Linked DNA regions of Homo sapiens. The protein of the gene in region 1 interacts with the protein of each later gene in a biochemical or structural test. Each region holds a gene or a part of one and is shown in the gene's direction. Other genes may lie near its edges. The genes, in order: CTSL, RXRA and SERPINB3.

Region 1 (7,393 bases):
TTCTCAAAATGAGACCCCATGTTCTAAACAGAACCTGCAGTCAGGATTCCAGGGAAGGTCAGCAGGTTCCCACCCCCAGAAGCACTTTGCCGTGTAAGACATTGTCTATGGAACATCAATGTCACTTAGGGCCTTGGAAAGACATTCAGGAAGGGAGTTACTACGCCTGAATTTCTGGAGATGTGTTTAGTAGGGAAGAATTCACTATAATCCATGAATGATTGATTGATTTCTAGAAAGGCTCACGCATGTTTCTTTTTGCCACTCAGGACTGGACCTCTGAATCAGTGCGGAATATGAATGAGAGCGGTCAGGGGAGAACTGGAGGATGCTGGTGGAGGCTGGAAGGCTTGCAGTCACCTGCCTGTGCTTATCTAAGTGATGAGAATGTAGGAGCAGCAGGACCTGGCCCATCACTACCCTATGTTTGTTACAGGAGAGAGGACCGTCCTCCCACAGGTCAGAGCTATTGTTAATCAAGGTGACAGTGCAAGATGCATTCCCACTCCTGACTTCTCGCTGTAAATAGGTTTCCTGAGTGGTGTTGGTTTATTTTCAATTTGGAAGCCAGTTCAATCAAATGTTTCACTAGATTCAAGTTTGATGAAAATACTAGCAAATCCCCCAACTAACGAGTCACTATAAGTAACTCAAGGCATCAGTCCTGCTCCCCACATAAGGGAGTACTGGTCCTGAGGAAATGGGACCACATATATAGGGAACAAAAGTGATACAATGGGCCATGAGGGTGTGATGAGTATCCCAGTGATTGCTTTGGGTAAATTTTGCTGGCCACATCGGTTTCAGTTCCTCTACATAGACAAGGAAATGCTCCTCATGACCGACAACAGCTCCTCCTGCACCGAGGCTGTCTAGTCATTAGAATGGTCTCTAGAAGACAATATCATCAGCAATCACTGCTAGCAAGGAGCTGGCTTCTGTGGTACTATGTTGTTGCTAATAGTTTTTGTTAGAGCAACTGCATTGTGGGAGACCTGATCCAGGGAAGGCAGAAACCAAAGCCTGTGCTCCCAAGGAGGTTATGGAAAATGAAGAAAAACACCAGCCCCTCTGCAGGAGGAAGCTGGAAATGGTTGGAAGGACCACCCATGGCTAGAGCCCCAGCACTTGGGTCATGACTCACCCTGGGTAGGTCAAGTACAGGCCCCACTTCTTCAGGCCTTGGTTGTGGATCAGACCCTGGATTCTTCCCCTCCGGGTACAGCCCAGTTGCCATGATGCTCCTTGAGTCAATGAGCTCTTTGGTCTGATCTTCTGCTCAAGCAAAGAAAGGGTCCGGCTTCAGTTCTCAGAGGCTGATAAGTACCAAGGTGGCAGAATATGGGAGTATCCTGCAGGTGCTCCCAGCATCTGCCCTGGCTCAGGTGCCAGAGGCTTGCGATTTTCTAGCTCTTGACCTCACACCCTCGATTGTTTGTTTTCCAATTCCTTCCTGAATAACGGGGTGAACATGCCACCCCTCCTGGTGGCGAATGGGGTTCCTCAGAACTGGGAGGCCACAGTCCAGATTCTGAGGCTCTTCACTAAGCAAGTGCTGGAGAGCAAAGCCACTCACTCACAACTCTCTCTCTTTCTCTTTCAAATTTGGGGAAGGGGAGGCCATCTGAGCAGTTTCTCTCACACTCCCCAGTAAGGAACTCATGAAGGACCAAGTGAGCTCTAAGCCCCCGGTAGAAACATTCAGCTGTTCCAATGAACTTCTTGTGATCCTGAAATCTGCAAAGTTAGAACCAAGGCAGACGTAGGTACTCCAGTTACCTAACACCACAGAAATATTGTTTTTATTTCATAAAATAATAAATTTAAATACTGCTATGGTTTCCTTGTTTGCCCCCTCCAAAACTCTTGTTGGAACTTATCTCCAATGTGGCAGCATTAAAATGTGGGGCCTTTAAGAGGTGATTAGGACATATGAGCTCTTCCCTAATGAATACATTAATCTATTCATGGAATAATGGGTTCATAGACCAACAGGTTATCTTGGGAATGGGACTGATGGCTTTTTTTTTTTTTTTTTTTTTTTTTGAGATGGAGTCTCGCTCTGTCACCCAGGTTGGAGTGCAGTGGCGTGATCTCGGCTCGGCTCATTGCAACCTCCACCTCCCAGGTTCAAGTGATTCTCCCGCCTCAGCCTCCCAAGTACCTGGGATTACAGGTGTGCACCACCACGCCTGGCTAATTTTTGTATTTTAGTAGAGACAGGATTTCACCCTGTTGGCCAAGCTGGTCTCAAACTCCTGACCTCAAGTGATCTGACTGCCTCGGCCTCCCAAAGTGCTGGGATTACAGGTGTGGGCCACTGCGCCCAGGCAGGACTGATGGCTTTAAAAGAAGAGGAAGAGACCTGAGCTAGGACACTCAGCCCTCTCGCCCTGTGATGCCCTACACCACCTTGGGCCTCTGCAAAGAATCCCCACAAGCAAGAAGGCCCTCACAAGATACACTTCCTGGACCTCAGACTTCCCAGCCTCGAAAACTGTAAGAAATAAATGTTGTTCTCATAAATTACACAGTTCCAGGTATTCTGTTATTAGCAACAGAAAAGAGACTAGGACAGATATCACAGTTAGATTGTATTCTACACATTGTGACTGGTTCTCCAGAGAAGCAATGCATAAAAAGAGGAATAATCGGCCGGGCACGGTGGCTCACACCTGTAATTCCAGCACTCTGGGAGGCCAAGGCAGGCGAATCACGAGGTCAGGAGTTCAAGACCAGTCTGGTCAATATGGTGAAACCCCATCTCTACTAAAAATACAAAAATTAGCCAGGCGTGGTGGTGCGCGCCTGTAGTCCCAGCTCCTCTGGAGGCTGAGGCAGAGGAATCACTTGAACCCAGGAGGCAGACATTGCAGTGAGCTGCGATTGCGCCACTGCACTCCAGCCTGAACAACAGAGCCAGACTCCGTCTCAAAAAAAAAAAAAGAGGAATAATCTCCAAAATAGTAAACAAATTCCTGCAGACAGGAAATATAATGGTAGATACCTGAGCTAGGAGAGGGGGAATGGGGAACTATTATTCAATGGATACAGTTTCAGTTTAGGAAGATAAACAAGCTCTGGGAATAAACAGTAGTAATGGTTACACAATGTGAAGGTACTTAATGCTACTGAACTCAAAGTTGGTTAAAATGGTACTTGCTATGTGAGGTATATTTTACCACTTAAAAAACTATAGGTGATTGTGCTTCTAAAAGAGTTATCAGTTTAATCTTCAATAGAAATCAATGGACTTTGTTCATTTTTAACAAAGTCAAAATATGCATACGAAAAGGTTATGGGGTAAAGGCAGAGGTAATTATTTTTTTCCCCGAAAGGTATTTTCTACAATGAATGTTTTTATGTAATAAAAAATGAAATGACAAAAGTTTAGAATGTTTGTGGGTTTTGTTCCTTAAATCCTTAATTACATAAATTAATATCTACATTATACAGATTAAGATACATATTTTTCCTCTATCTACAACATTTCTCCATTCTCTGTATCTTAAATCCTGACATTAAATGTCATTAAATTTCTTAAATCTCAAGAGAACGACTTGGTTACCAAGGAAGATATAATCCATAGCCTAGAGAGTGGGCGAATAAAAGCAGCTTCTAATGTTCTCAACTGCTTTTCTCCTGTCAACCAAATGTTTCTGTAAATAACTCATTTCTGTTGGTTTTGGGTAAGACGTGGGAGAAGGAAGAATCCCTGAATGGAGGAGTCTGGAAAGGATGCTTGACAAAACGCCCGCGCTCTCTGGAGACGCAGCCAGTCTCCTCCCTCCTAGGGTCTGGTCTTGACGATAGCATCTCGTGTTTTGGGGATGCCTTTCCTTACCAGATTCTTCTAAAGCCCAGCTGCACCCACCCTTAAGTGGGAGATAAGGCTTCTGCCCGCGGGCTCTGCGTTCGTCCACCCGGCCCCACGTTTGCTGTGGACTAAACAGGAGCCACTGGACTAGAGTACACTTGACTCTCGGCTCTGCGGACCAAAAATTCCAGGACTAAGGAATAGCAAGGTTAGGCTGAAACAGTCCACACAGGGCTTGCGGTAAACGTCTTTTCAGGAGCCACTCGCCCAGTGCAGTAAGTCGTGTACTTAGTTGACTCGAGCGCTCCAGGGAGACGCCCGACCCTACTCTGCGCCGCCCCGGGGCACCAGCTCTGCTTCCTCCAGGTCCACTGAGGCAGGCACGCCCAGCTCTGGGACAGTCAGTAAACAAGCCACGAACCGCGCCAGGGATCAGAGCACCCAGAGTCCCCGCCCAGCTGCCGGCACAGCCAATCGCAGCGCAGCCAGGCGGCGGGGCGGTGCCGGCCGAACCCAGACCCGAGGTTTTAGAAGCAGAGTCAGGCGAAGCTGGGCCAGAACCGCGACCTCCGCAACCTTGAGCGGCATCCGTGGAGTGCGCCTGCGCAGCTACGACCGCAGCAGGAAAGCGCCGCCGGCCAGGCCCAGCTGTGGCCGGACAGGGACTGGAAGAGAGGACGCGGTCGAGTAGGTGTGCACCAGCCCTGGCAACGAGAGCGTCTACCCCGAACTCTGCTGGCCTTGAGGTGGGGAAGCCGGGGAGGGCAGTTGAGGACCCCGCGGAGGCGCGTGACTGGTTGAGCGGGCAGGCCAGCCTCCGAGCCGGGTGGACACAGGTACCGCAGCCAGGCCGCGCCGCGCCGACTCAGGGCCTGGCCCGGCCAGACAGGGAAGCTCAGTCCCCGCACGCCAGACAGCGGTACTCCTGCTGGCGTCACCGCAAACATCCTCTGACCGCTACAGCCAGTGTGTGGCGCAGGCGTCATGTCCCCGGCCCTGCCACGCCTGGAGCCCTGGAAGCTGGCTGCAGGGCGCTGGCTTCCCGCGTGCGGCCATATGACCCCGTCCCTGATTTAGGGGAGCAGTTTGGGGTGTCGGCAGCACAGGCCCAAGTGAATGAAGGAGGGAGCAGTGCGTGCTCTCCTTCCCAGTTTTTCCTGGGAAAGCATTTCAGAAAGGTTTCATTTAAGGAGAGGTTGGGGCGGCGCGGTGGCTCACTCCTGTAATCCCAGCACTTTGGGAGGCTGAGGTGGGCGGATCACCTGAGGTCAGTAGTTCGAGACCAGCCTGGCCAACATGGTGAAACCCCGTCTCTACTGAAAATACAAAATTAGACGGGCGAGGCGGCGCACGCCTGTAGTTCCAGCTATTCAAGAGGCTGAGGAAGAATGGCTTGAACCCGGGAGGCAGAGGTTGCTGTGAGCCGATATCGCGCCGTTGAACTCCAGCCTGGGCCACAGAGCAAGACTCCATCTCAAAAAATAAATAAATAAATAAATAAATAAATAAATAAATAAATAGGAGAGATTGGAAAACTTATCTCAGCTTTTGGTGTTTGTTAGTCAGGAAGATGTGTGAAGGCCTCCTAACTCTTGGGGATCTCTTTGTCCCTACTTGGGAATCCCACCTTATCATTAGTGAGGTTTTGCCTGGGCACGAAACCTGGATTTTTTGCGATTGGTACAAAACCTGGATCAACCGTTTCCCGGTTTCCTAGTTGTTGCCTTAAGCTTCTCACACACAAGGTAGTTTCATACCGTTCTCATAACCTAAATTGTCATCGCATAAACTGTTTCAGCTCCTACAGCTCTGGACAGGCTGCTTTTCATTTTGGTGAGTCCATCCAGTACCTCCACGTGCCCTGTTTTTCTCCAGGCACATCCTTGGCCTCTTCCACAGTCCTTGGGTAAATGCTTGGGAGAATAATTTAAATATTTTTATTCTACCATGGTGGCCCTAATTTTTCAGGGGGCAGTAAGATGGCTTTTTAGGATTGGTCTAATCAGATCCTCATTTTTGTTCCCTTCCTAGGTTTTAAAACATGAATCCTACACTCATCCTTGCTGCCTTTTGCCTGGGAATTGCCTCAGCTACTCTAACATTTGATCACAGTTTAGAGGCACAGTGGACCAAGTGGAAGGCGATGCACAACAGATTATACGGCATGGTTAGTGAAACTTCCCCAGAAAGAATAGTCCTGGCTGTTGAGAAGTTTTAGTCAGAGAGTAGCTTCTAGAGGCCAGCTTTTACCAATAGCCTAATGTAATAACCTAATGGCGTGGATTATGAGCACAATGTGGACATTCATCCTTGTTGTGTCTCAGTTTGGAGAACAGCATCCCCAGAGGTGTCAAGCCTTCCCTTGCCATGGTTTCTCTTCCATCTCTGTCTGCAGATTCACTTGGTGAGGATGAGTTGGGTTTTAGGTAGAAGTAAAGAGCATCAGTTACATGTTTGCCTCTAGAATGAAGAAGGATGGAGGAGAGCAGTGTGGGAGAAGAACATGAAGATGATTGAACTGCACAATCAGGAATACAGGGAAGGGAAACACAGCTTCACAATGGCCATGAACGCCTTTGGAGACATGGTAAGTGTGCTGTGGACTGCCGAGCTCTGTGCTTCCTCTCTTCGGTTCTTTACTAAGGTAATCTCTTGCTTTTCAACATTTTATTTCCTTTTCCTTGAAGACCAGTGAAGAATTCAGGCAGGTGATGAATGGCTTTCAAAACCGTAAGCCCAGGAAGGGGAAAGTGTTCCAGGAACCTCTGTTTTATGAGGCCCCCAGATCTGTGGATTGGAGAGAGAAAGGCTACGTGACTCCTGTGAAGAATCAGGTGAGACAGTGTCAGGTTCAGACCTCCCATCTTCCCAGGAAAGCCAAGAAGTGATTGACATCTTTGTTTTGGTAGACTTTAAAGTGATGTACAGTTCACTTTTTAACAGTATTCAGATGTGTGAGCTGTTGTCAAAGTCTTATTATTTTTTTTTTGTGGATGACAGCTTTTTTTAATTCCCTTTTCAGGGTCAGTGTGGTTCTTGTTGGGCTTTTAGTGCTACTGGTGCTCTTGAAGGACAGATGTTCCGGAAAACTGGGAGGCTTATCTCACTGAGTGAGCAGAATCTGGTAGACTGCTCTGGGCCTCAAGGCAATGAAGGCTGCAATGGTGGCCTAATGGATTATGCTTTCCAGTATGTTCAGGATAATGGAGGCCTGGACTCTGAGGAATCCTATCCATATGAGGCAACAGTAAGTGGAGCTCCTTGTCATCATTCCAGCTCAGCTTTTGGAAGGTGGACACTTTAAGAGATAACAGATACCTTTTTCGGAATTCATATATTAGGGCTGGGTGGGGTGGCTCACGCCTGTAATCCCAGCCCTTTAGGAGGCTGAGCCAGGCAGATGGCTTAAGCTCAGGAGTTTGAGACCAGCCTGGGCAACAAGGTGAAACCTTGACTCTATCAAAAATACAACGAAAATTAGCCGGCTGTGGTGGTGTGCGTCTGTGGTCCCAGCTATGCTGAGGTAGGGCGATTGCTTGAGTGTGGGAGGTGGTTGTGCAAATGCACTCTCCAGTC
Region 2 (7,117 bases), about 47 Mb from region 1:
AACGGGCTGCCTGCTGCCACCTGGCAGGGAGAGGGGATGCATGACAGGCGGGGAGGTGCCAGTCCCGAGTCTGTGACGGTATTTCCAGCCCTGGCTTTTCCATCAGACCGCCCGTGGTGCCGTCTGCATGCTCCCACGGTGATGGGGCACAGACCCCACCGTTCCTCCCTCATTTTGGTTGCACAGCCTGGGGCCAGTTGGGTGCCATCCCTGCCTGGTCTGTCAGCACACCTGGGCGGGGCGGCCTCGGGGGTGGGAACTCCCTCCTGGGGCCCTGGGATTACTCAGTTGTGAAATGGGGAGAATGGGGACGGTGACACCTGCCCCCGGGTTCCCCATGACAGGGTGGGTATGTGCTGGGAGGGTGTGGAGGGCCGAGCCGGAGCTGGCACGGTGGTCCCCACCAACTTCTTGCTGATCACTTACCCCCTCATGCCTCAGTTTCCCCCTCTGTAAAACAAAGTTAATGCCAGTTTTCCAGGATTACAGTTGGGATTAAGTGGGAAATTAATGACAGTGTCGGCCATAGAGGCTGGAGCCTCTAGAGCGCTCAGGGAGTGTGGAAGGTGCTGAAGGTGACTGTGTGACTGCAGGTGACTCCATGTCACCCTGTCTATAAGAGCTGTTAAAACAGCAGTGCGTGTGTGCGCGAGGGTCCCTGACTGTGTGACTGCAGGTGATTCCACGTCACCCGGTCTCCAGGAGCCCTTAAAACAGCAGTGCGTGTGCACGCGAGGGTCCCTGTTTCTTCCTCCCCGATGCCTGCTCTGCTTCATCTGCACTGGAACCTCATGTTGAGGGGCTGCTGTTACCTAACTGTCTGCCCCCCAGGGAACCCCCACTATGTTGAGAGGCTGCTGTTACCTAACCACCCGCCCCAGGGAACCCCCACTGTGTTGAGGGGCTGCTGTTACCTAACCACCTGACCCCCAGGGAACCCCCACTATGTTGAGGGGCTGCTGTTACCTAACTGTCCCCCAGGGAACCCCCTGATGTTGAGGGGCTGCTGTTACCTAACTGTCTGCCCCCCAGGGAACCCCCACTATGTTGAGAGGCTGCTGTTACCTAACCACCCGCCCCAGGGAACCCCCACTATGTTGAGGGGCTGCTGTTACCTAACCACCCACCCCCCAGGGAACCCCCCGATGTTGAGGGGCTGCTGTTACCTAACCACCCGCCCCAGGGAACCCCCACTATGTTGAGGGGCTGCTGTTACCTAACCACCCGCCCCAGGGAACCCCCACTATGTTGAGGGGCTGCTGTTACCTAACCTTCCCCCCTGGGAATCCCCCCGAAAGAGGCTGCGGCTCTCACGCACCTGCCTTCAGTTGGATAACCTGCTGTTTGGTGGCATTCCACGAAGGGCACACAGATCCCCGAGAGTCCTGGGACCCTGCTGGCAGCAGTGGTTCTGGGGCCATCCTGGGAACATCCCTGGGTGCTCTCCCACGTGCTCCGTGGCAGGAGTGTCCTGCACACGCGGGAGGAAGCTTCTGGGGCACATGAGTTTGTGAGCTCCCGGGTTCCACAAAGCTCAAGGGACTTTGTGTGGGACTTCTCAGGGCCTTTCGTGTGCCGGTGTGTACTGTAGAACGGGCATTCTCAGGAACCTCTTTTCTGTGGAACACTTCATGGGATTGGGGTTCCAGAGCCTGTCAGGATGGGTCGGTGACATGCTGCCTCTGTAGGGTCCCACCAGGGGCTGGGGAAGGGGCGAGCCCCGTGGGGCCTGGAGACAGCTGAGTGACTGTGTGCCTCCTCCCCAGGCTGGAATGAGCTGCTCATCGCCTCCTTCTCCCACCGCTCCATCGCCGTGAAGGACGGGATCCTCCTGGCCACCGGGCTGCACGTCCACCGGAACAGCGCCCACAGCGCAGGGGTGGGCGCCATCTTTGACAGGTGGGGGTGGTCCCGGGAGGGGCGAGGGCGCTTCGGTCACCTCCGCCACCAGGCCAGCTGAGTTCAGCCACCTTGGCCCCGGTGCACATCCTGCCTAGTATTATTTCAGTGCATGAAGGGTGCACACATGGAAAAAGAGAAAAGCATGAGGAGGAGGCTCAGAGCCCTGTGCCAGCCCTGCCTCTGGGGCATCTGTAACCACAGGGAGCACTTGGCCTATCTCCCTCCATCTCTTCTTTTTTCACGATCCCATGTATTTATCCGTGGGAAGGAAAGCTTCGTTTCTTTTTAAAGTGATTATACCGTAGATGCAGTTTTGTAAAAGTGTCAATTCCAGTTGGCATGTCGCAGGCTGCTTGAGGCTGGCACGGTAATGCCGTGGCAGCCCGGGGCGTGGTGCGGCCTAACGCCTGTCCCCGTGCAGGCAGGGGTGTCGGGACCGCAGTGCTTCACACCTCCCAGTGGAGCAAAGGGCTGCACCTCAGCCACTTCTCAGGGGACACACTGGAGGAGCAGCACTGGCTGGAGGGCCCACCCTCGTCCGGGCCTGGGTGGTCCGTGTCCGTTCATGTTGCCCTCCTGGAGTGCTGGCCAACTCCGCTCTGCCAGGCGAGGCGGACAGTAGCTTCCTTGTCCCTGTCTCTGCACAGCCTTTTTTTTTTTGAGATGGAGTCTCGCTCTGTCGCCCAGGCTAGATTGCAGTGGTGCAATCTTGGCTCACTGCAAGCTCCGCCTCCCGGGTTCACACCATTCTCCTGCCTCAGCCTCCCGAGTAGCTGGAACTACAGGCGCCCGCCACCACGCCCGGCTATTTTTTTTGTATTTTTAGTAGAGACGGGGTTTCACCGTGTTAGCCAGGATGGTCTCGATCTCCTGACCTCGTGATCCGCCCACCTCGGCCTCCCAAAGTGCTGGGATTACAGGCGTGAGCCGCCGCGCCCGGCCTCTCTGCACAGTCTTTCTCCACGAGTCTAGAGAGCCACACACACCAGACTGGGCCTTCTGGGGACCGGATGTCAGCTTCAGCTGGAGCGGGAAGGCTGGGGAGGGGCACTGCGGGGTCCCTTGGGCAGGGGTCTGCAACACAGGAGCCGTGGGTGGGGAGGAGCAGGCCACCTGGAGAACGTGGCCCCTGAACACGAGAGCCCCAACGTTAGAGGTGAGTAGAGGCCATGCACCGGCACTTACAGGGGGATTAATGCCCCAGCAGCAATGCCCCAGGGGGTGGTTCAGGTCCCAGAGTCCCAAGGGTGATCCTGGAACTTGACCTCCATGGGATGTGCCAAGTGCAAAAGGGTTTGTGGCCGCAGACGGTGGGCAAACGGTAGTTCAAACAGTGTCCTTGAGGGTCTTTGCCGCAGGACTTGTCAGGGCCTTTAAGAAGTTAGTGTACAGGAGGGTCCCCACGGGGGCTGCAGGGTGCAGTGTGCAGTGTGTATTGCCCACAGAAGCTTCTTTAGAGGGGTACTGGGGATATGGCTTTGGGAAGCGAAGCCCCAGCCACTTGCCCAGCTGACAGATCCTTTGTCTGGCTGGTAGAGAGATGGCGATGACAGAGGTTTCAGGGTTACATTCTCTGGGGTCCCACAGCAGTGACTACAGAGGCCCCGGCATTTCCTCGCCTTTTTTGCGAGTGGAATGCAAAGTCTGCCCTCAGTGGCCCAGGTCTTTTCCATGCCCGCTGCCCCATCCCTCTGCAGCTGTGTGCTCCTGCCTCAGAGCAGACATCGGGGGTCCCTCCCAGCTCCTGTTCTGTCCCACCCTGTTCTCCAGCCTCCTTCAGATCTTCTTCCAGGAATCAACCAGGGCACTCCCCATTCTGCAGACCCTCAGGGCCGCCCTTGGCCCACAGGGGAGAGCCCAGGCTCCTTAGGCAACCATCCCCACCTGGTCACCTCCTTTCCCCCGCTGTGGCCCACCCTTACTTCCTGGACACAGCAGTTGAGCTTTGGGGTTGGTGGGCAGGCTGCTGAGGCTAGGGGGCCCAGTACACTGCAGAGGCTGGTGTGATTCAGAATCCAGCTGCAGGGCTGGGGCAGCTGAGTCTGAATCCAAGAACGCCCCCAGCGTCTCCATGGAGGGAGCTGGCGGGCTTTCCCCGTGTTGAGGCTGGTGGATTTTTTTTCTCTGGTGACAAGAAGTAGACATGCCTCCCTCTGGCAGCCCCCACCCAGGGACACCAGGCCCTGGGGAAAGGTATCTTCCTGGACTGAAGGGAGCGGCTGGGGCTGTGGCATGGGAAGGGGCTTTGCCTCAGGTGGTGCTGGGTCCACAGCTGAGGAGGGACAGTGGTGTGTCTCACTGGGTTCGGGAGGGGTGGACTCTGTGCCCTCTGTGCAGCTGCGGCTCACCTCAGTTTAGCTGTCACGAGGCCCCTCCTTAGCACCTCGGTTCCCAGAATAAAGCCCCGCAGGCAGACCCTAGAGGGAGAGGAGAGGAGCCCACCCTCCGGGCAGGGCCAGGCAGGCCTGGCAGGGGCGGCACCTGGGCCTGGGTTCCAGCCCACTCCCTCTCGGGGTGTCTGGGAGTCCTTGCCTTGGCTTGGCCCATCTCAGCGGCCCTCGGGCCACGCCGGGCTCTCCAGAGGCCTTGGGTATCTGGGGTGTGGCCCTGGTGAGGGCTGCGACCTAACTGGGATGGGGTGTCTGCCCTCCTCCTCTGCAGGGTGCTGACGGAGCTTGTGTCCAAGATGCGGGACATGCAGATGGACAAGACGGAGCTGGGCTGCCTGCGCGCCATCGTCCTCTTTAACCCTGGTATGGCCTTCCTGCCTTGAGGCTTCTGGCCCCGTTCTCTGGTGGGGCAGAGGTGCCTGGGCCTCCTCCTGGCTGTACTTCTTGCCTCTGGCTACATGTGGGGCCAACTCCCACCCTCCTTGAGCTCAGTGTGCCCCCCTCCCAGTGAAAGTGTGGCCATGCTGCCTTCTGCTCACCTTGAGGGCCAGCCAAGGGGGCATGGTCCCTGGGCACAGGGGGACCCAGCAAGGCAGTTGTCATGAGGGGCTTGGTGGTGCCGTCTGGGCTCCGCGGTTCATAGTGTTCATCACTGTGCGTCGGAATCCAGACTCCGAAAGTGGCCAGCTGTGGTTGTGAACTTCCGGTGCTGAAGTTCAGGAGTCCCAAGCCCTGCAGGCTGGGGATGGGTCAGGCCTGCCGGGTGTTCCAGAGGGGACCAACCTCATCCCCAAGCCTCGGGTCCAGGGTGTTTCTGGGGCTGGGCCCCTGTGGTTGAGGAGAGCAGGGCTTGGGGCTGTGGGGCTGGGGCTGGGCACAGGCCTCCTGGCCGACAGTGCGGCCCTTCTCCAGCCTCTGGGTTCTCGGCTTGAAAAGCCTCCTAGGTGCTACTCCTTCGCCCAACAAGTGCTGACACGTGCCTGTTTGCTCGGTGCCCTGCTGGCATGGGAGGGCCCCTTCAAGCTGCTGGATAGGGCTTGCCTGCCTAGAGCTTGGGGTTTAGAGGGTCACGCCCACCAGCAGGCACCCCCGGCACGTGAGGGCAGGAGCACGGTTGGTCGAGGGTGCGGGCCACTTCCTCCGGGAGCTGCAAGTTAGGGGCCAGGGGAGTGAGAGGCACGGAGGTGGGGTGGGCTGGTGGAGGCAGCCCAGGCAGGGCCTTGAAAGTCTTGCTAAGTTTGGGTTTTTTCTTGGGGCCACAGGGAGCCAAGTCCTGAGGGGTTCCAGCCGGGAGGGAGCTATGGGTTTCTGTGTTTGGAAACTCAGCTCATTGCGTGATAGGGGCAGGTGGCTGGGGTGTGGAGGGAGAGGTTTGGGGCTGCTGTGGGGAGCTCACTTGGGCTATGGTGGAGGGAGTGGAGCCCTCTCGGCTCCTGGCCCTGACCTTCTGACCTTGCCCTTTGTCAGACCTGGCTCTGAGGGACCGGGCCGGGATGGAGATGGGCATCTTCTTGTGGGGAGAGCTTGTTTCCAGGGTCATTTTATCACCCAGGCTGTGCATCCGGGCCGTAATCCTGCCAGCTCGGAGGCTGAGTCATGCCACGGCCCGGCCCGGCCCGAGGAATCCCCATTCAGGTCCTGTGTGGTCTGGTTGCTAGAGCTGGGGCACCAGCAGGACCTGGGCACCGGCTTGCAGGGAGGGTGAGATTGTCTGGCACAAGCAGGGTCCAGGCACAGGCTTGCAGGGAAAGCGAAGAGACCAGGGCACAGGCATGCAGGGAGGGCGAGGAGACTGGCTGGAGCGGAGGCAGCTGGGGGAGCCAGGTACGTTGCCAAGGAGCCCAGGACACAGGCCAAGGTGGCATTCACAGGGGGTCCCTGGGCCTTGGGGGCCAAGGTGGCATTCACAGGGGGTCCCTGGGCCTTGGAGGTTTTGGTGGCTGCAATCTTAGCCTCTCTGTCCACTCTAGGCTCTTGAGCCCGGGTCCTGAGCTCAGGACTCCGCAAGCACACCGAGGATGGGTTTCCGCAGGGTCTGGGTACTCCTGGGGGCAGCAGCGCTATCTCCCATCCATGTTATGGGGCTGGGACCCAAGGGCAGCAGCAGCATCCATTGTCTCTCCCAGTTCCCAAGGCGGCTGGAAGGAAGGCAGCAGATCCCTGACACTTTATCGATGGGGAAACCGAGTCTCTGGAGGTCAAATAGTTGACCCAAGGTCACGTGGCTGGCAAGTGGCAGAGCTGAGCCTGGACCCAGAGCAGCCTGGCCTGGCCGTGGGTTCCACAGTCGTCCCCCTGCCACCAGGCTCTGGGGGAGCGGGCGGAGGCATGTCCAGCGGCATTCCTCCACCACCTGCTCTGCCCATGGTGGGGCAGCCTGGGAGACCCCACACAAGCCTGGGTCCTGGGGGCAGGTGCCCGAGACACGCCCCAGCTGAGGGTTCTGACCTGTGGCTTCTTCCTTTCAGACTCCAAGGGGCTCTCGAACCCGGCCGAGGTGGAGGCGCTGAGGGAGAAGGTCTATGCGTCCTTGGAGGCCTACTGCAAGCACAAGTACCCAGAGCAGCCGGGAAGGTGGGTCCCGCCCCGTCCCACACACACCCCAGACCCAGGCTCTTGTCTCCAGAGCCCCCACCCCCTGCAAGGCCATTTTATGTGAATGAGAAGGTGGCACCCTCCCCAGGCCCAGCCCATGCCAGCAGGTCCTGAGCAGGCAGCAGGAGGTCCTCCAGGCCAGTGGGCTGTGGCGGGCACACCCCACAGGCCCACGTCGTATCCCCACTGGAAGGATTACCTTGCACCTGGCGCATAGTAGGTGCTTCTCT
Region 3 (4,314 bases), on another chromosome or scaffold:
GAAAGATAAAAACAAAGATCAGAAACATCATGGTTGAAATTACTGGAAAGAGGTCTGAGAAGCAATGAATCTCCTTCAGGGAAGCCTGCTCTGCAGTTTGCAAACCACAGCCTCTTCTGCTTCTGCCTTTTGCCAGATGATATTGACCTTCGGTGACCTCTTTCTTGCGCCAGCCCGCACTCCGCTTTTGCATTGCCTACATGGCACCAGTATAAAAATATGCATGGACAGGAGATACTGCATCTATTCAGGGTCTGGATTCAGCTTACTATAATTATAAATAACTAAATTTGGTAATATATAGTTACATAAATTACTCTTACTTCCTACTTTCTTCCTTCATATCTCAAAGGAATATTTAGATGCCATCAAGAAATTTTACCAGACCAGTGTGGAATCTGTTGATTTTGCAAATGCTCCAGAAGAAAGTCGAAAGAAGATTAACTCCTGGGTGGAAAGTCAAACGAATGGTAGGAGAGCCACCCATTATAGAAACACCTTTGAGAAATCTATGCGAGTGAGCCCTATGCCTGAAACTGCATGGGGGACCATGGGTGGGAATTGAGATGGCTTTGCAGGGAGGGAAGAAGAGGGCACTCCAGATGAAGAGTTTTTCCAAATGATTATGAAGAGAGCCTAGGGGAGCCAAGGAGGAAATCACAGGAAGCCAATTAGAAGAAAACATAGCCGGAGGATTCTTTGCTCATGTTCCTGGATGACAATAGCTTTGTGGATCCCTTGTCTCCACTCAGGTCCAATTTGAGATCATGTCCTTTACTTTAAATCAGAACCAATATTTTATGATGAATATTTAAAAGGAAACATTAGAAAGCATCTCCCTTCCCCTTTACTAATTGGGAAACAAGCAGCTCTCTGGTAAATCACCCTTTTGCCATCTGAACTAGAGCTGCCTGGATCACATCTCTAGCCACAAGTTCTGCAGGGATTATCACAGCTCTCTTCCCCATCAAGGGCAAGAGCTTAACAAATTCTCCATTCTATAGACATCTATCCTACCTCCCACCTCTCATTACAGGCCAAACTTACAGCAACTCAACATGAGAGTGAATAGGAAGATACCCCCGGAAGTAGTGTCTGACAGCACAGGACATGCGTTTCATATTACAGAGCTCATGTCACTTGTCCTAAAAAGCAGTCAGGGCCTACTTCCTCTGAATGGGGACCCCGTAGTTAAAAAAAAAAAAAAAAAAGTAGGAAGAGGAGGGAGGGAGAAAGGAAAGACACATGTTGAAAGAGTAGACAAAATCAGTTTATCAGTATTCCAAATCAGATGAATGGACTCATTCATACACAGAGAACGTGAACTCCTTCTCTATCACAAGAAGTGATGTCTCCATTAAGGGCAACTTTATACGACTGGAGCCTTGAAGAAAGCTGCATCTGGTGAACCACTGGTCAGTGAGTCTAACAATTCAAAGATCAAAGTCAGTGAGTCTCAAGTAGGGATTTGGGTCAATAATTAACGATCAGTCACGAACATTTGCAAAGCATCTTCCAGACAAGCCATTTGTAGCTTGTGTAAAAGACTCTTTTATTCTTTCCCTTGCAGAAAAAATTAAAAACCTAATTCCTGAAGGTAATATTGGCAGCAATACCACATTGGTTCTTGTGAACGCAATCTATTTCAAAGGGCAGTGGGAGAAGAAATTTAATAAAGAAGATACTAAAGAGGAAAAATTTTGGCCAAACAAGGTATTGTCTATATTTTATTTATATAATGTAATATGTTAATAAATTTAAACATTTCTGATGGAATGTACCATGACAAGTAAAAAATAAAATTGTTCATGTCTGTTTTTTTGTTGTTTTAGTCTTATAACTTTATTTAGTTAGGAATTCCTGAAGAAGCTATTGTCTCTAACTCATTACATTCTTGGATTATTTCTTAAAAGAAGGATGTGTTGATATCTCAATAATATTATCTTTTTGCCTTGTGTCTCACTTGGTATTTGTTGGACACATTGATTTATTGTAGAATACATACAAGTCCATACAGATGATGAGGCAATACACATCTTTTCATTTTGCCTCGCTGGAGGATGTACAGGCCAAGGTCCTGGAAATACCATACAAAGGCAAAGATCTAAGCATGATTGTGTTGCTGCCAAATGAAATCGATGGTCTCCAGAAGGTAAGAACTTGCATCTACAACTCTTCCTTCTACTGCCTGACATTTTTCCAAAGATACCAAGTTTAAACAAGGTAAAAGCTGGTGACCGAGTTGCCTCAAAATAATGAAAAATTCTAAATGAGGAATGATGACTCACCTTCATATTACAAAGATTTAAGCATAGGGCCTGACACAAACTGAAGGCATAGTTAATGATTAATTTATTAGAGTTACATGCATTGGATATCAATTTAATGATATTATTATGCAGCAATTTAAACTTGACTGGGAGAAATATATAGCAATGTGAGGAAAGTTTACGAATACACCAAGTAAAAAAGGGAATAGAAATTTAGGAATTTGGGGAATTGCAATTTAATAATTGCAATGTGTACTAAATAATGTATACAGAAAAATAAGATGAGCCTATTAAAAATTGACACATGTAGTAGGCTGTTGGCACAAGAAATAGTGATATATATAGTTCATTGTGTACAAAATAATGTAATCATATTTTTACATGTGTATCATACAGTTGTATACATACATATGTACACATTACATATACATAAAAACTTGATTCTGTTTATACACATACACATATAACCCAATGTATTTATATATCCAGGACTCATATTTTGCCTATTAGAATAATAATATCTAATAAAGTGAACCTTCTGTATTTCACATTTGTTGCCAAAATAAGGATTCTCCACATAGTCAATTCATTGTTAAGGTGTATTAGAAATCAACAGTTAGTCATATCAGTTTCTTTTTTCCATTTGTATAGCTTGAAGAGAAACTCACTGCTGAGAAATTGATGGAATGGACAAGTTTGCAGAATATGAGAGAGACACGTGTCGATTTACACTTACCTCGGTTCAAAGTGGAAGAGAGCTATGACCTCAAGGACACGTTGAGAACCATGGGAATGGTGGATATCTTCAATGGGGATGCAGACCTCTCAGGCATGACCGGGAGCCGCGGTCTCGTGCTATCTGGAGTCCTACACAAGGCCTTTGTGGAGGTTACAGAGGAGGGAGCAGAAGCTGCAGCTGCCACCGCTGTAGTAGGATTCGGATCATCACCTACTTCAACTAATGAAGAGTTCCATTGTAATCACCCTTTCCTATTCTTCATAAGGCAAAATAAGACCAACAGCATCCTCTTCTATGGCAGATTCTCATCCCCGTAGATGCAATTAGTCTGTCACTCCATTTGGAAAATGTTCACCTGCAGATGTTCTGGTAAACTGATTGCTGGCAACAACAGATTCTCTTGGCTCATATTTCTTTTCTTTCTCATCTTGATGATGATCGTCATCATCAAGAATTTAATGATTAAAATAGCATGCCTTTCTCTCTTTCTCTTAATAAGCCCACATATAAATGTACTTTTTCTTCCAGAAAAATTCTCCTTGAGGAAAAATGTCCAAAATAAGATGAATCACTTAATACCGTATCTTCTAAATTTGAAATATAATTCTGTTTGTGACCTGTTTTAAATGAACCAAACCAAATCATACTTTTTCTTTGAATTTAGCAACCTAGAAACACACATTTCTTTGAATTTAGGTGATACCTAAATCCTTCTTATGTTTCTAAATTTTGTGATTCTATAAAACACATCATCAATAAAATAGTGACATAAAATCATTTTTGCTTTACATTTTCTCTCTGGAAAGGGAAAGTGTCCAGTTACACACAGGAAAGACAATTTAGAGATATATTAATCACAAACAAAGGAAAATTAAAAACAGAGTAGTTCATGATGAGCCTGGAGTAGAAGGCATATCCCAGAACAGGAGGAGCCTTGTAAACCACATTAGGAACTTCCTATTTTATGCTAAAGGGATAAGAAACTCATTACAGGCTTTGATGGTTGTTTGTCAAAGAGGGGCATAAAATTATCATATCTTCATCTTGAAAATACATCTCTGGTTACTCTGATATCAATGGATGAGAGGAAAGAACAGTGTGGTTACCATATATAAATCAGGAAATCATTAGAGTATTGGGGGTGGAAATGAAGAGAAAGAAACAGCCTGGCAGAATTATTTAGGAAGTAATAGTTAAAAAAAGACATCTAAGTTTCTGAGCTATCTGACTGGAAGGATGGAAGAAAATGTTGTTTTTGAGAGAAAAAAAAGACCATGGGTTTAAATTTGTACTTGATGAATTGAG

What was found.
Region 2: of the proteins of CTSL (region 1) and RXRA, one has a biochemical effect on the other in vitro, tested with the Homo sapiens proteins (one study listed by BioGRID).
Region 3: the proteins of CTSL (region 1) and SERPINB3 form a complex in vitro, tested with the Homo sapiens proteins (2 studies listed by BioGRID, with this or other methods).

Annotation. Positions count from the first base shown.
Region 1 is NC_000009.12:87,721,746-87,729,138, forward strand, and holds the start of CTSL (procathepsin L isoform 1 preproprotein), read left to right. Parts: upstream 1-4,373; 5' UTR 4,374-4,653; intron 4,654-5,615; exon of another isoform or gene 5,616-5,723; intron 5,724-5,848; 5' UTR 5,849-5,858; coding exon 5,859-5,984; intron 5,985-6,281; coding exon 6,282-6,404; intron 6,405-6,504; coding exon 6,505-6,651; intron 6,652-6,839; coding exon 6,840-7,064; intron 7,065-7,393. UniProt on the Homo sapiens protein: Thiol protease important for the overall degradation of proteins in lysosomes. Plays a critical for normal cellular functions such as general protein turnover, antigen processing and bone remodeling.
Region 2 is NC_000009.12:134,427,342-134,434,458, forward strand, and holds part of RXRA (retinoic acid receptor RXR-alpha), read left to right. Parts: intron 1-1,766; coding exon 1,767-1,899; intron 1,900-4,563; coding exon 4,564-4,655; intron 4,656-6,760; coding exon 6,761-6,866; intron 6,867-7,117. UniProt on the Homo sapiens protein: Receptor for retinoic acid that acts as a transcription factor.
Region 3 is NC_000018.10:63,654,669-63,658,982, reverse strand, and holds the end of SERPINB3 (serpin B3), read left to right. Parts: intron 1-352; coding exon 353-470; intron 471-1,570; coding exon 1,571-1,713; intron 1,714-1,996; coding exon 1,997-2,152; intron 2,153-2,921; coding exon 2,922-3,326; 3' UTR 3,327-3,786; downstream 3,787-4,314. UniProt on the Homo sapiens protein: May act as a papain-like cysteine protease inhibitor to modulate the host immune response against tumor cells. Also functions as an inhibitor of UV-induced apoptosis via suppression of the activity of c-Jun NH(2)-terminal kinase (JNK1).